2 linked regions of the Homo sapiens genome follow. The protein of the gene in region 2 interacts with the protein of the main gene of each other region in a pairwise test. Each region holds a gene or a part of one and is shown on either strand. Other genes may lie near its edges.

The links. Proteins that work in one complex are often made in the same cells at the same time.
Region 1: the proteins of KATNBL1 (region 2) and PFKFB1 interact in binary tests that used the Homo sapiens proteins (3 or more experiments, as listed by UniProt).

What each region holds. Positions count from the first base shown.
Region 1 is NC_000023.11:54,952,589-54,956,339, forward strand, and holds part of PFKFB1 (6-phosphofructo-2-kinase/fructose-2,6-bisphosphatase 1), read right to left. Parts: intron 3,687-3,751; coding exon 3,565-3,686; intron 1-3,564. UniProt on the Homo sapiens protein: Synthesis and degradation of fructose 2,6-bisphosphate.
Region 2 is NC_000015.10:34,147,355-34,151,105, forward strand, and holds part of KATNBL1 (KATNB1-like protein 1), read right to left. Parts: intron 1,397-3,751; coding exon 1,278-1,396; intron 77-1,277; coding exon 26-76; intron 1-25.

The DNA of each region.
Region 1 (3,751 bases), on a different chromosome or scaffold from region 2:
TACTCTACACACAGCTACCAGATTGCCTCTGTGTGCATATGTGTGTCTGTGCATGTGTGTGTTTCTCTCCTCACTCAGAAGTGGGGTTGGCCTGGGTTATTTTCCTATTTGCTATGCAGTCAACAAACATACTCCAAACATACTCCTCTGTTCTAGGCATTGTGCTTGGCATGGAGACCCACTGTCTGTGCTTTGGGAGCTCTCTGGCCAGTCAGGAACAAATACTTGGAAACACATGATCAGTGCTCAACATTCATTCCATAAATAGTCACTCCCTCTAAGGTGTGCCAAGCAGTGGGGCATGGGGATACAGAGGTGGTCCACAACATTATTGGGGAACTTGTGGTCCTTGTCCCAAGTTCCTTACTGTATCCTCAATTCTGTGCTCTGTCATGAACTAATACCTATATACTGAATGATATTTAAACTGTTCAACCACCTGTTTGTGTAGAAGCTGAAGGGTGGAGTATAGGCACTGACTAATCAGAAGACTAGAAACATGGAGCAAGACTTCTGAGGCCTACGCTGTACCAGGCATTAAATCCTTTAGTTGTTGGCCTGTACAGAGTTCAGAGAAATCCCTGGGAAGAGGAGTGGAAGGCTGGGGCAATGGGGTGACACCAGCAGCCCTGGTTGCATGGTAACAAAACCGAGTGAATGGAAAGAGCTGCACTGCACTAACTCCAGGCAGGTAAGGTTGCTGATAGGTTTGGTTTCAGAAAGCCTCTCCCTAGTTCTTCCTAGAGAAGCCCTTTATGGCTGCACCACACTCATCATGCCCATCTGTGCCTAATGGCTTCCACAGGGCACTTGTATTTGTTGAACACTTTCTGTGCATCTGGCAGGGAGTGGGAACTTTTAAGCGCATGAATCCTCATAATATTGCTACAGAGCAGAGATTATCACCTCTGTTTCAAAGATGAAGAAACTGAGGCATAGAGAGAGAAAGTGATTTCTCCAAGGCCACCTTCTCGGGAAGAAGAACCCCAGAATGCTCCCCTCTCCAATCATTTCTTCTAGAACCCTCAGAGCCTAGGGATAGAAAATATCTGATGTAAACTTGTTGCCTGGCTACTGTCTGTTCCTAACACTAGGTCCTTTGAGGCTCTAGGAGCTTCCAAATTCCTCAGCTTAGTCTGATCTTCTGGTTTTGCCTTCTCACACTGAGCCCAGTTGGCCTCACTTTATGGTCCCATGCCCATACCCATATCTTCTCTGTTTCATTCTTGTCTTCATACCTTTGCTATTACTCTTGGAATATTTTCTGTATTTCTCTACTCTTGTTCAGATTTAACTAGGCACTTACAAAGTGCTATTCTCTTTGCCCGATTTCCAAAGTTGAGCTGCTATGCATTTATACCTCAAGAGCCGGCATATTCACTCTCTTTTTTGAGACCAGGATCATGTGAAGTCATTTAGAGGTGTTCCACACCAAAAATAGCAGAGTAGCTAATGCCTACCCTCATCCAAACTTTTAATTTTATTTAAAAATTTTTTAAAAAATTTTTAAATTTTTATTTAAAATAAAAATTATAAACTACAGAATATGGGGAGGTCCTCCCAAGTTCTGGTTTTATATTTTTCCACTTTGACTACCTTGATGCTGTTTTTGAAATAGTCAATATTATAAAAGCCTTTAAGCCAGCTGGGTGCGGTGGCTCATGCCTGTAATCCCAGCACTTTGGGAGGCCAAGGCGGGCAGATCATTTGAGGTCAGGAGTTCGAGAACAGCCTGGCCAACATGGGAAACCCTATCTCTAATAAAAATACAAAAATTAGCCAGGCACGGTGGCGGGCACCTGTAGTCCCAGCTACTCAGGAGGCTGAGACAGGAGAATTGCTTGAACCCAGGAGGCAGAGGTTGCAGTGAGCTGAGATCACGCAACTGCACCCCAGCCTGGGTGACAGAGCGGGACTCTGTCTCAAAAATTAAAAATAAATAAATAAATAAAAGTTTTTAAGATAGTTTTTTTTCTTAGTTTGGTAGCCCTTATCTTGCTGGTAACCTCAGTGTAGTCTGCCTATTGGGTAATCCAGCTCGTTTAGACCTTCTTCCTCTAAGCTGGACTGGGTCCTATGTTCCTACAGCCCAGTTGGTTTACTGTCACCAGAGTTGTGACCAACTGTGTACTCATTGTCTTCTCCAACTAACTGGACATTCTGTCAAATCAGGGACAGCCCTTTCCTCTTTTGATTCCACGTTCAGGGCTGGGACCTGATGCATAGACTGTAAATGTCTGTTGATGGAGAAATGATGACATAAAGCTGACCTTCTAGATCTGTCTTCTTCTGGCCCAAACTAATTCATCAAACAGCAACCTAGCAACTGCAGGGTCTAGGCCCAGGGCTGGGGCTTTGTCAATGCCGTTCTTTCACTTACATCCTTCACCCCGGCCTTCAGGCTCCTTTCACCATATGCTGTTAGCCCATATTGTGCCTTTGTGATAATTTTAAAAAGCCGTACTTTCCTCAGGGTCACACAGCCCTACTTCAGCACACATCTTGGTGAGAGAAGCGAGTGTACCCTTGACCAGGGTGCCTGTACAATGAACAATCTGCACAACTGGGATATGGGTTCGAGTATATATTGTGCTACTGACTCATTCATTGTGTAGCCCAAGGTAAGACTTTGACTTGATCTGGGTCTCAGTTCCTCCATCTAAAGAGTGGGGCAGTAACAGTGCTCATTTCTTGGTACTTCAGTTGGGTAAGGCCACTCTTTAGATTTCTTAGAGTGGTGATGACCATTTGAAGCCTCTTTATACTTCTCACTTGGGGTCTCTTCTCATCATAATACATTTTCAAAGAGAGTAGGGTTCTGGGAACATTCTATATCTAAAACTCACATCTGCTCTCTCCTATCTTTAGTTGGTATGATGACAGAACATTTCTTGTTTTTTTTTATGGGTCTTCTCATATGTCAAAGCACTATAGAAGCTACCCGAGGATAGAACCCACCTCTTTTGCCCCTATTTATACCCCCTACATATACCACAGCCCAAAGGGTCCAAATACTTGTTGATTGATGAGACATGGGAGTGTTGTGAAAAGAGACATGACTAGGAGACAGAACATGTAATTAGAATCCTAGCTCTACCCCTTGTGGTGGGAGCTTGGGAAAGTAATTTCAACTCTCTAAGACTCAATTTCTTTTTCTTGAAATTTTATGACCATAAGACTTATCTCAGCCTCCTTTACAGGAGTCCTAGAGGATTAAATGTAAGAAAGAAGGTATACATGTTTGGAAACTGAAGTGTCATTCACGTGTGAAGAACACTTTTGTAATAATAATCGCAACACCCACAGGAGGGGGGCATTTGTTCCCAGGGTCCTGAACTGTTCATATTGCTCAGGAAAGCACTATTTTAGTCATCTTAGGAACACCTTACACATCAAGGAATCAGAGCTGAAAGGATCCTTGAAGAAAGATCATCAAGTTCAGTTTCCTGATATTACAGATAGAGAAGTTGAGGCCCAGCAAGGGAGGATATTTACTCTAGGTTCTACAGGATATCAAAACTGGGTGAAAGATCTAGACCTTGACTTTGGGGTGCTGGCTCTTACCTGTCCAGTTCCTCATCCAAGGGTTGGTAGTTGACCTCATAGCACTCAATTCTCTTTAGAAAGTCTTCCAGAACCTTTTCCCGGTCACAGTCTATATAATCAGGGCTGCCAAGTTTCACTTGCTGGGAGCAGGGAGAACAGAGGTATCAAGGGAGACATTGGGAGACAGATGGTTTTCTTTGGAAGT
Region 2 (3,751 bases):
TTTTTCTGAAAAATATTGTTTTTACCAATTGGTGAGCACAGGAAGGCAATCTACCACAACGCCAAGATCTTCTATCCTGAGAGTATAAAAAGAATAGCATTGCCTTAGAGAGCTGATTTCCTTATTTACTTTCATATTATGATTATTCACACCGCTTTTGAGAAATTCATTCATTTAACAATGTCAGTATCTACAATGAGTCATGTCTGTGGATACAGCAATGAACAAAGACACAGGGCTTGTATTCCAGTGTGTGAGCAACTGTGGGGGTTGGGGGGTGGGACAGAGACAGGCAATAAACAAATAACAAGACATAAGACATATAGAGCAGGTTGATATAAGTGCTATGGAGAAAAATAAAACAGGAAAGCGAGATAGGGAGTGGAGAAATAGGTATTTTAAAATAAGTTGGTCAAAGAAGGCTTCCCTAAGGTAACATCTGAGAGACTTGAATACAATGAGGAAAGTAATGCTTCAAATTCCCACTCAAAAGGGATGTTTACTTTTTATTTTTAGTAATTTTTTTTTTAAGAAACGGGTCTCATTCGGTTGCCCAGGCTGGAATGTAGTTGCATAATCACAGCTTACTGCAACCTCCAACTCCTGGGTTCAAAGTGATCTTCCCAAGTATCTGGGACCACAAGCACGTACCACTGTGCCTGGCTTATTATTTTTATTTTTTGTAGAGATGGAGTCTTGCTATGTTGCTCAGTCTCTCACTCCTGGGCTCAAGGGACTCTCTCACCTCAACCTTCCCAAATGCTGGGATTATAGGCAAGAACTGCCACACCTGGCCTCAAAAGGGATTTTTAGAAGGTTAGTTTTCCCATATCGTTATCTCTTAGTTTTATAGGTAAGAATGACAGTCAGGAAAGGTAACAGCTTTGTTCAATCTGATAAAACATTGTTTTCTGTATTTTGGTTACTCTTAGATGGGTGAGGAATGTAATTTAAGCCATACTGTCTCTACTGAAGCTACATATAGGCAGTTTAGAATAATGAAGAAGGTTCACCTGAGCTCAGGAGTTCGAGACCAGCCCGGGAAACATAAGACCTCATGTCTTCCAAAAAATTTTTTTAAAAAATAGCCAGGTGTGGTGATGTGCACCTGTACTCTCAGCTACTCAGGAGGCTGAGGTGGGAGGGCTGCTTGAACTCAGCAGGTTGAGGCTGCAGTGAGCCATGATTGTGCCACTGTACTCCAACTTGGATGACAAAGCAAGAACTTGTCTCAGAAAAAAAGTGATTGAACAAAGAGGATAAAAGGTCACACTTACCTCAACAAATAAGCTACAAGTTCACTTATACTTCTCTTTCTCCAGAAAGTTAAAGCTACATTCAATCTCATATTCCTGCTGAACAAAACTTGGGCCATTGTTTCATGGTCCTGAGAAACCTGAAAGGCAATAATCTGATTTGTTAAAAAGCACACTGAAACAGGGTATGAAACTATTTTTTTATTAAATCGTTCTGGTAGACATAGTTAAAAATCATGCAAAAGTAACTCCTTTTACTAGCCCACAAAAAGGAATACTGCAGTTGACCACAGTAAACAAATGATCTGAACAAATTTAAGACCCATTTATACTTTTCACTAGCTACCATTTTTCTTTTAAAACCCAATAATTTATAAAATTATTTTTAGCTGACCTATAAACTAGGACTTAATTTATAACATGGATAAAAGAAAAATGTAAACATGTAGGCTAGTCATTACCAACTGAATGGCAGGAGAATCACAAAAACTCAGTTTTTGACAAGTGTTGTAGTATCATTTAAATTTATCTATTTATTGTTAAGTAATGAAGTGTCATTTTCCTGTTCTAATGTGTTTAACACAGAACTATGTAAGATAAAAAGTAAAAACTCTCTGCCTGCCCACAAAAACATCCAATATCACTCCGCAGAAATAATCACAGTTAACAGACTGATATGTATCTTTCCAGACCATTTTCTAGACAAAGACAAATTAAGTACACATATAAACACTCTGAAAAATTAATTACCTATATTGTTCAAAACCTTGCTTTTTTACCTATATGAACATTTTTCAATGTCAAAACACAGATCAAGCTTTTTTTTTTTTGGAGACAGGGTCTTGCTCTGTTGCCTAGGCTGGAGTGCAGTGGTGCAATCTCAGCTCACTGCAACCTCCGCCTCCCAAGCTCAAGTAATTCTCCTGCCTCACCCTCCCCGAGTAGCTGGGATTACAGGCACCCAACACAACACCCAACTAATTTTCCTATTTTTAGTAGAGATGGGGTTTTGCCATGTTGGCCAAGCTGGTCTCCAACTCCTGACCTCACATGATCCGCCTGCCTTGGCCTCCCAAGTGCTGGGATTACAGGCATGAGCCGCCACACCAAGCCCAACTTTACTTTTAAAGAACAACAGCATAGCCTGGCATAGTGCTGTGTGCCTACAGTCCCAGCTACTTGGGAACCTGAGGTGGGAGAACCACTTGAGCTCAGGAGTTTGAGTCCAGCCTGGGAAAGACAGTGAGACAGTGAGACCTCATCTCTTAAAAACAACAACAAAAAACAATAGCATATTCTCTAGTCTTTACATACCATAATTTATTTAGATTCTGGTTTTTACCTATCAAAACTGATGAGTGGACATCCTGATATATGTAAATATGTGCACTTGTACAGACACTTTTGTTAAAATTAATTTTACAATTGGAACAGCTAGGTCAATGGTTATATGTATTTTAACTTGGCTAAGATGTTATGGTATCACTTTCAGATTTAGGTTTTTAGAGCAGGTACTGGTCAATCAAGAAAACAGGTATGAAACAAGAATAATCATTAAACCTATTAGTTAAATGTAAGGTTTAGTGAAAAGTAGTGAAAATGAGAATGTAAAGTAAAAAGAGGTTCTTGAGAAAGATGTCTCACTGGGGTAGTTTTTAAAATGCACAACTGAAACTTTTTAAAAAGAACTTTTATTCTGGCCAGGCACAGTGGCTCACACCTGTAATCCCAGCACTTTGGGCTGGGGCTGAGGCAGGTTGATCGCTTCAGCTCAGTAGTTCGAGACCAACCTGGGGAGCATGGCAAAACCCTGTCGCTATAGGAAATACAAAAATCAGCTGGGTGTGGTGGCACATGCCTGTAGTCCCAGTTACTCTGGAGACTGAGGTGGGAGGATTGCTTGAACCTGGGAGGTGAAGGTTGCAGTGAGCCAAGATTGCACCACTGCACCCCAGCCTGGGTGATAGAGCGAGAGACCCTGTTTCAAAACACAAAACAAAACAAACTTATTTTATGTTCAGGGGCACATGTGCAGGTTTGTTATATAGGTAGTTTGCATGTTGTGGGGGTTTGGTGTACAGATTATTTCATCACACAGGTAATAAGCATAGTAACTGATAAGTAGTTTTTTGATCCTAACTCTCTTCTCACCCTCTACCCTAAGGTAGGCCTCATGTCTGTTGTTCCCATCTTTGTGTCCATATGCACTAGCACAGTGTTTAGCTCCCACTCCAACTGAGAACATGAAGCATTTGGTTTTCTGTTCCTGTATTAGTTCGCTTAGGATAATGGCCTCCAGGTTCACTCGTGATTGCAAATGACATGATCTTGTTCTTTTTATGGCTGCATATAGTATTCCATGGTGTATATGCACCATATTTTCTTTATCCAGTTTACCATTGATGGGCATTTCGATTGATTCCTTGTCTTTGCTATTGTGAACAGTGCTGTGATGAACATACGCATACATGTGTCTTTATGGTAGCATGTTTTAT